Regions from separate parts of the Homo sapiens genome. Here all the other regions are linked to region 1. Evidence: fine-mapped QTL for protein levels in blood plasma. A gene starts in region 1. Each other region holds a variant in brackets. All regions are shown on one strand. Distances are from middle to middle.

Region 1 (2,763 bases):
GAGAAAGGTCTGGGTTTTATTTTTCCTTCTCCTTTTCTTAGGCTAATTACCATTCATCGCAATCCCTTTCCTAAACCCTAATATCTTCCCAGTTTATAAAGTGCTCTCACATTTACAATATTTAATCTTCCCAACCCTGTGAGGTCAATATTATCCATATTTTGTAAATGAGGAAACTGAAGGTCCTCATGATCAAGTGATTCACCTAAGACCATAGCTTGTGGGTGGCTGAGCCCAGGGCTGCAGACCCTAATTTTAATGTTCTCTCCTCTACCCCATATTGCGGAGGGCAGGCAGGCAGTCCCCTGTCATGGGGCTCTGCAGCTCTCCATGGAACCAATAATGGAGAAGAAAATTGCGTTGCATTTTCTAAGTAGTCAGCTGGGATGGCAGGAATTTATTTATTTTATTTACTTATTTATTTTTTGAGACAGAGTCACGCTCTTGTTGCCCAGGCTGGAGTGCAGTGGCACGATCTTGGCTCACTGCAAGCTTTGCCTCCCAGGTTCAAGCAATTCTCCTGCCTCAGCCTCCCTAGTAGCTGGGACTACAGATGCCCGCCACCACACCCAGCTAATTTTTTTGTATTTTTAGTACAGACAGGGTTTCACCATGTTGGCCAGGTTGGCCTCAAACTCCTGACCTCAGGTGATCCGCCTGCCTCTGCCTCCCACAGTACTGGGATTACAGGCGTGAGCCACTGTGCCTGGCCATGGCAGGAAATTTTGATGGGCATCTACTTACCTGCAAGTGTGTTGTGCTTTCTTAATTGAGGGGCATTGTTAGAGGATTGTTAGAGGTAGTGGTGTTACTTGACTGGGTCTTCTGGGGTGTTGATGTGCACAGGGGAAATTTGGATTTCCCATCACTTTGTGTGATGACCACACAGCCCCTAAATCTCACCTAAGTGTGATATGGAGAAGCTGAAAGAAGCCACTACATTGTCCACATGAGCTAGGAACAGTGACTTTAGGTCTTACATTAAATCTTAATTCTGCCTTAACTTTGCTGTGCAACTCAGGCCAGACTTCTCCCTCTCTGGTTCTCAGAACAGCCCTGGCAGCCAAACCGAAGTTATCTCCTATGCCAGCCTGAGACTCCACTCCCTTTGCAACCTCCTGGAGAAGATAACTTAGGGAAAGACTGTCACTGCTCAGAGGAAGCATCCCAAACCCCTCACTGGTTTAGGAATTTAACACTACCGAGCAACGGCCCCAGAAGGCAAGGCGATTGTTAGGAGGAATTAAACAGGCTAGTGCTGGACCCAGCCATCCAGTCCTGGCTTACACAGAGGTTGCTTTTCATGCCTTTTCACTCTGTTAATTTGGCTTGTTTTCCAAACATGGGTCAAACAACCCCTCTCCAGAAGCGGCAGCAGCAGAAGGAAATGTTATTAAAAATGAGTCTGTTAGTGGGAATGGTGTGTGGATGAAGTCTTTGGGAGTTTTGGCTGCCAAATAAAGACTTTATTGTCATTCCTCCTTTCCCAAGCTCCCTCCCTCTCTCCTCCCCTCCCCTCCCTCCCTCCTCCCTCCTCTCCTCCCCTCCCTCCCTATGATCTGCCCCTCCCTCCCCCCAAGCTAACCTCCCCACCCCAATAGGATCTGGTGGAAGAAAAGTCAGGCAAACACAAGCACGCACACACCACTGGGAGATCAGATCTTCTAGCTGGCTCTCTGCTGCCACAGCTCCGCCGAAGGGAGGGGGTGGAAGAGGAGGACTAAACTCAGAGCTGAGAGGAGAGGCAGGTGTGTGCAGGTAAGCCCAGTTGGGAGATGGGCAGGAGACTGGGAAGAATCTTTCATCCAGTAAGTTTCCTCCAGCTCTGTCCATTTATTGATCTAGTCTCTATCCTCTCACTCCTTCCTTCCTCCCACCTCTTTCTCCTCTCAAATGAGTTCAAATTTAGTCTTCCTAACTTCTTTCCTATAGCCTCTTCCTTTTCTTTTCATCACTCTGTACCCCTATATTTGCTTACTGCAAAAGTTAAGCTTTCCTGCTGCAGATGTTTGTTGTAGCACAGAGAGCCACGCTGCACAAAGTGTTTCTACAGATCAGGTGTTTCCATAGAAACTGGACTCCAGAACCCATTTCTTTGCACCTTTTGTGTATTGTCACACATTGTGGAAGTCACACACATCACACGGAGGCTGCACGTTCACTACCATCACCCCACACGACCATACAAAATGAAGACATCCTGTCCATTCACCTCTGCCCTCTGCATCTGACATGCAGAGCTAGACCACATCATCACCAGACACCAGCAGACACACACACACATGCATGCACACATGTTCCCTGCATCTTGTCTCTCGCCCTCTCACACACACCTCCCTAGCTGTAAGAGCAAAGATAAAGTACGTTTTCCCACTGAGATGGCAGAGCCAGAAGAAAATCTTGCATCCCAAGTCCAGGCCGAATAGGGAGGAGATAAGCAAGAGCGGGAGCTGGAAGGGTTTCTTCATTATTTAGGGCTTCACTGGGTAGGAGGGAGAGAAAAACGGCTTTTTCCAACCTGCACAGTGTCTTCTCAGCAGCTTTCAATTTCTGTCTCACTGGTCCAAACCACTTGGCTTTTGGAAAGAAAGAAGAAAGCGACCCAGTTCCCAATCCTTGAAGGTCCTAATTCCCAGCTCTGGGGACAGTTCATTTTTTTATTTTTTTTTCCTGCAGGCAGCCAGAAAAATATTTTTCTTTAAAGCCGTTCTGAAATTATTCCAACCATTTAGGTTGGCAAAAGGTCCTGTGGCAGAGGAGAAA
Region 2 (2,763 bases), 61 kb before region 1:
TAACTGGGCTAAATGCTCCAATTAAAAGACACAGACTGGGAAATTGGATAAAGAGTCAAGACCCAACAGTCTGCTGTATTCAGGAGACCCATCTCACGTGCAGAGACACACATAGGCTCAAAATAAAGGGATGGAGGAATATCTACCAAGGAAATGGAAAACAAAAAAAAAGCAGGGGTTGCAATCCTAGTCTCTGATAAAACAGACTTTAAACCAACAAAGATCAAAAGAGACAAAGAAGGCCATTGCATAATGATAAAGGGATCAATTCAACAAGAAGAGCTAACTATCCTAAATATATATGTACCCAATGCAGGAGCACCCAGATTCATAAAGGAAGTCCTTAGAGACCTACAAAGAGACTTAGACTCCCACACAATAATAATGGGAGACTTTAACACCCCACTGTCAACATTAGACAGATCAACGAGACAGAAAGTTAACAAGGATATCCAGGAATTGAACTCAGCTCTTCACCAAGTGGACCTAATAGACATCTACAGAACTCTCCACCCCAAATCAACAGAATATACATTCTTCTCAGCACCATATCGCACTTATTCCAAAACTGACCACATAGTTGGAAGTAAAGTACTCATCAGCAAATGTAAAAGAACAGAAATTATAATAAACTGTCTCTCAGACCACAGTGCAATCAAACTAGAACTCAGGATTAAGAAACTCACTCAAAACTGCTCAACTACATGGAAACTGAACAACCGGCTCCTGAATGACTACTGGGTACATAACAAAACGAAGGCAGAAATAAAGATGTTCTTTGAAACCAACAAGAACAAAGACACATCATACCAGAATCTCTGGGACACATTTAAAACAATGTGTAGAGGGAAATTGTTGGGAACAGGCCCCCCAAAATTTGGCCATAAACTGGCCCCAAAACTAGCCATAAACAAAATCTCTGCAGCACTGTGACATGTTCATGAAGGCCATGATGCCCACGCTGGAAGGTTGTGGGTTTACCGGAATGAGGGTAAGCAACACCTGGCCCACCCAGGGCAGGAAACCCCTTAAAGGCATTCTTAAACCACAAACAATAGCATGAACAATCTGTGCCTTAAGGACATGATCCTGCTGCAGATAACTAGCCAGACCCATCCCTTTATTTTGGCCCATCCCTTCATTTCCCATAAGGAATACTTTTAGTTAATCAAATATCTATAGAAACAATGCTAATGACTGGCTTGCTGTTAATAAATACGTGGATAAATCTCTGTTTGGGGCTCTCAGCTCTGAAGGCTGTGAGACCCCTGATTTCCCACTTCACACCTCTATATTTCTGTGTGTGTGTCTTTAATTCCTCTAGCATCGCTGGGTTAGGGTTTCCCCGACCGAGCTGGTCTTAGCAGAAATTTATAGCACTAAATGCCCACAAGA[G/A]AAAGCAGGAAAGATCTAAAATTTACCCTCTAACATCACAATTAAAAGAACTAGAGAAGCAAGAGCAAACACATTCAAAAGCTAGCAGAAGGCAAGAAATAACTAAGATCAGAGCAGAACTGAAGGAGACAGAGACACAAAAAACCCTTCAAAAATTCAATGAATCCAGGAGCTGGTTTTTTGAAAAGATCAACAAAATTGATAGACTGCTAGCAAGACTAATAAAGAAGAAAAGAGAGAGGAATCAAACAGATACAATAAAAAATGATAAAGGGGATATCACCACCGATCCCACAGAAATATAAACTACCATCAGAGAATACTATAAACACCTCTACGCAAATAAACTAGAAAATCTAGAAGAAATGGGTGAATTCCTGGACACACACACCCTCCCAAGACTAAACCAGGAAGAAGCTGAATCCCTGAATAGACCAATAACAGGCTCTGAAATTGAGGCAATAATTAATAGCCTATCGACCAAAAAAAGTCCAGGACCAGACCGATTCACAGCCGAATTCTACCAGAGGTACAAAGAGGAGCTGGTACCATTCCTTCTGAAGCTATTCCAATCAATAGAAAAAGAAGGAATCCTCCCTAACTCATTTTATGAGGCCAGCTTCATCCTGATACCAAAGCCTGGCGGAGACACAACAGAAAAAGAGAATTTTATACCAATATCCCTGATGAACATCGATGCAAAAATCCTCAGTAAAATACTGGTAAACCAAATCCAGGAGCACATCAAAAAGCTTATCCACCACGATCAAGTTGGCTTCATCCCTGGGATGCAAGGCTGGTTCAACATATGCAAATCAATAAATGCAATCCATCATATAAACAGAACCAAAGACAAAAACCACATGATTATCTCAATAGATGCAGAAAAGGCCTTTGACAAAATTCAACAGCCCTTCATGCTACAAACTCTCAATAAAATAGGTATTGATGGGACATACCTCAAAATAATAAGAGCTATTTATGACAAACCCACAGCCAATATCATACTGAATGGGCAAAAACTGGAAGCATTCCCTTTGAAAACTGGCACAAGACAGGGATGCCCTCTCTCACCATTCCTATTCAACATAGTGTTGGAAGTTCTGGCCAGGGCAATCAGGCAGGAGAAAGAAATAACGTGTATTCAATTAGGAAAAGAAGAAGTCAAATTGTCCCTGTTTGCAGATGACATGATTGTATATTTAGAGAATCCCATTGTCTCAGCCCAAAATCTCCTCAAGCTGATAAGCAACTTCAGCGAAGTCTCAGGATACAAAATCAATGTGCAAAAATCACAAGCATTCCTATACACCAATAACAGACCAACAGAGAGCCGAATGAGTGAATTCCCATTCACAATTACTACAA
Region 3 (2,763 bases), 15 kb before region 1:
TCTTTCTTTCTTTCTTTCTCTCTTTCTTCTTTTTTTGAGACAGAGTCTCGCTCTGTTGCCCAGCTGGAGTGCAATGGCGCAGTCTCAGCTCACTGCAGCCTCCACCCCCTGGATTCAAGCGCTCCTCCCACCTCAGCCTCCTGAATAGCTGGGATTACAGGCACCTGCCACCACACCTGACTAATTTTATTTTTAGTAGAGATGGGGTTTTACCACGTTGGCTGGGCTGGTCTTGAACTCCTGAACTCAAGTGATCTGCCCACTTCGGCCTTCCAAAGTGCCAGGATTACAGGCGAGAACCACCACGCCAGCCCAGCTTGAGCATTGATTTCTATCTTCTTTCCCTTGTAGACATCAAAACAATAGTTGAGATTTACTGGGATCAGCAAATACCCTCGGGGCAAACCTTTAGTTTCCATCTCTGAGGTTTCCATTTTTTTCCCTTTAATTTTGTCTGGTTGGTTGTTTCTCTCTTGCTAAGTCTTATTAGCTCTTGTTTCTAAACAAAAAATTTTTTAAAAAATTTATCTGTCAGTTTTACTTGTTTTCAGTGGTAGGCTTGGTCCAAATAACCTTATCCACTATTACTAGAAATTAGGGAATCCCACTGAAAGGTTTTGGGTTGGCGCAAGTGACATGACATGAAATTTTTCATGGTGATGAATATATTTTACATTTGACCGGCATATTTAAAAAATGCTTAGCATCACTAATCATCGGGGAAATGCAAAGTAAAACCACAAGGAGATATCACCTCACACCTATTAGAATGGCTGTTATCAAACACAGACACACACACACACACACACACACACACACACAAAGACACGAGATAACCAAAGTTGGTGAGGATGTGGAAAAAAAGGAACCCTTAGGAATGTAAATTAGTACAACCGTTACAGAAAGCAGCATGGAGATTCCTCAGAAAAACTTAAAAATGGAACAACCACGTGACCCAGCAATCCACTACTGATATATATCCATAGGAAAGGAAATCAGTGTAGTGGCCCCCGCTTATCCATGGGGATACAAGTACTTAATTAAGTACTTGTCATGCACTGTGGCTGTCACTTCTGCGATTTGAGATGTGACAACAAAACTAGCATGAATTTCTTTTTCCTTCTTCACAATTTCATAGATAGAAGCTTCCTTCTTATCATAGCTCTTAGTAATTTCAGCCTACAATATTTTTTCTTTTCTTACTAAGTTGAAAACGTTCACCTTTTCACTTCAAGGAAGCACTCTGTGGTGTCTCTTTGGCATACTTGAATTGTCACCATCACTACTCTTGTGCTCTGGGGCCATCATTAAGTAAAATGAGGGTGACTTGGACACAGGCACTGCTGTACTGAGACAGTTGATCTCATTACTGAGATGGCTACTAAGTAACGTCTACAGTGTGGGTATGCTGGACAAAGGGCGGATTCATATC[G/A]CCAGCAGGATGAAGCGGGAGAGTGCAGGATTTCATCATGTTACTCAGAACAGTACACAATTTAAAACTTATGAATTGTCGGCCGGGCGCGGTGGCTCACACCTGTAATCCCAGCACTTTGGGATCCGAGACGGGCGGATCACAAGGTCAGGAGTTCGAGACCAGACTGGCCAATATGGTGAAACCCTGTCTCTACTAAAAATACAAAAATTAGCCTGGCGTGGTGGTGGGCACCTGTAGTCCCAGCTACACAGGAGGCTGAGGCAGGAGAATCACTTAAACCCAGGAGGCGGAGGTTGCAGTGAGCCGAGATCAGCCACTGCACTCCAGCCTGGGGAACAGAGGGAGACTCTATCTCAAAAAAAAAAAAAAAGAATTGTCTATTTCTGTAATTTTCCATTTAATATTTTCAGGCCATTGGTGGTGGTGTGTAACTGAAACCACAGAAAGCAGAACTTTGGATAAGAAGGGGCTACTGTATATCGAAGAGATATCTGCACTCCCATGTACACTGCAGCACTATTCACAATAACCAATGTGGAATCAACCTAAGTATCTATTGATTGACGAACAGATAAAGCAAATGTGCTGTACATACACAGTGGAATATTATTTAGCATTAAAGAAGGAAACCTTGTCATTTGCATGAACATGGATGAACCTGGAAGACATTATGTTAAGTGAAACAAGACAGGCACATAAAAACAAACACCATATGGCCTCACTTATATGTGGAATCTAAAAAAGTTGAAACCATAGAGGCAGAGAGCAGAATGGCAGTGACCAGGGGCTGGATGGGGGTGGAAGTGTTGGGGAGATGTTGGTCGAAGGATACAAAATTTCAGTTAGAAAGGAAGAGTAAGTTTAAGAGATCTATTGTACATGACGGTGACTGTAGTTAACAGGAATATATTGTGTACTGAAAATTGCTAAGAGAATACATTTTTTTATGCTCACCACAAAAAATGAGAAGTACATGAGATAATTTATATATTAATTAGCTCAATTTAGCCATTCTACAATGTGTATGTGTGTAACTGTATATATTTAGGTTATACAACATAATGTATGTTATGTATACACACACATTATGTTGTATAACCTAAATATATATAATTTTTCTCAATTTAAAACATTTTTCAATACATCTGATTGGGGTGGTGGTTGCATGGGTATATATACATACACATATGTGTCAAAGTTTGTCAAGCTGTATACTTCAAATGGGTACCTATTTGTAACCTGTTACTCTATGCAAATTATAATTTTTAAAAATTGATTTAAAAAGTAAGAACTCTGGCTTCTGGTACAGAATGAATTATACAGTGGCA

Direction of the effects. Positions count from the first base shown, and alleles are read on the strand shown. Strength reflects both the effect of a copy and how common the allele is.
With allele G in place of A in region 2, the plasma level of the protein whose gene starts at base 1,626 in region 1 is higher (weak association).
For the plasma level of the protein whose gene starts at base 1,626 in region 1, G is the high allele of the variant in region 3 and A is the other (moderate association).

Evidence for each region. A credible set is the group of variants that fine-mapping cannot tell apart. PIP is the chance, under the fine-mapping model, that this variant and not a neighbour inherited with it causes the effect. Protein levels are from antibody-based Olink assays in UK Biobank. Linkage for the fine-mapping came from a reference panel and not from the study's own genotypes, which makes the PIPs less certain.
Region 2: its variant is the best candidate, but not a certain one, in a credible set for the plasma level of the PRELP protein (UK Biobank, PIP 0.56).
Region 3: its variant is the best candidate, but not a certain one, in a credible set for the plasma level of the PRELP protein (UK Biobank, PIP 0.72).

What each region holds. Positions count from the first base shown.
Region 1 is chr1:203,474,181-203,476,943 of GRCh38, forward strand. PRELP (proline and arginine rich end leucine rich repeat protein) reads left to right here and starts at 1,626. Exons shown (of 3, transcript NM_002725.4): 1 at 1,626-1,758.
Region 2 is chr1:203,413,613-203,416,375 of GRCh38, forward strand. No RefSeq gene overlaps it. Among named protein-coding and RNA genes, the nearest start is that of BMNCR, 7.4 kb to the left of the region's middle. The variant G/A (reference allele first, on the strand shown) is at 1,396.
Region 3 is chr1:203,459,063-203,461,825 of GRCh38, forward strand. No RefSeq gene overlaps it. Among named protein-coding and RNA genes, the nearest start is that of PRELP, 15 kb to the right of the region's middle. The variant G/A (reference allele first, on the strand shown) is at 1,433.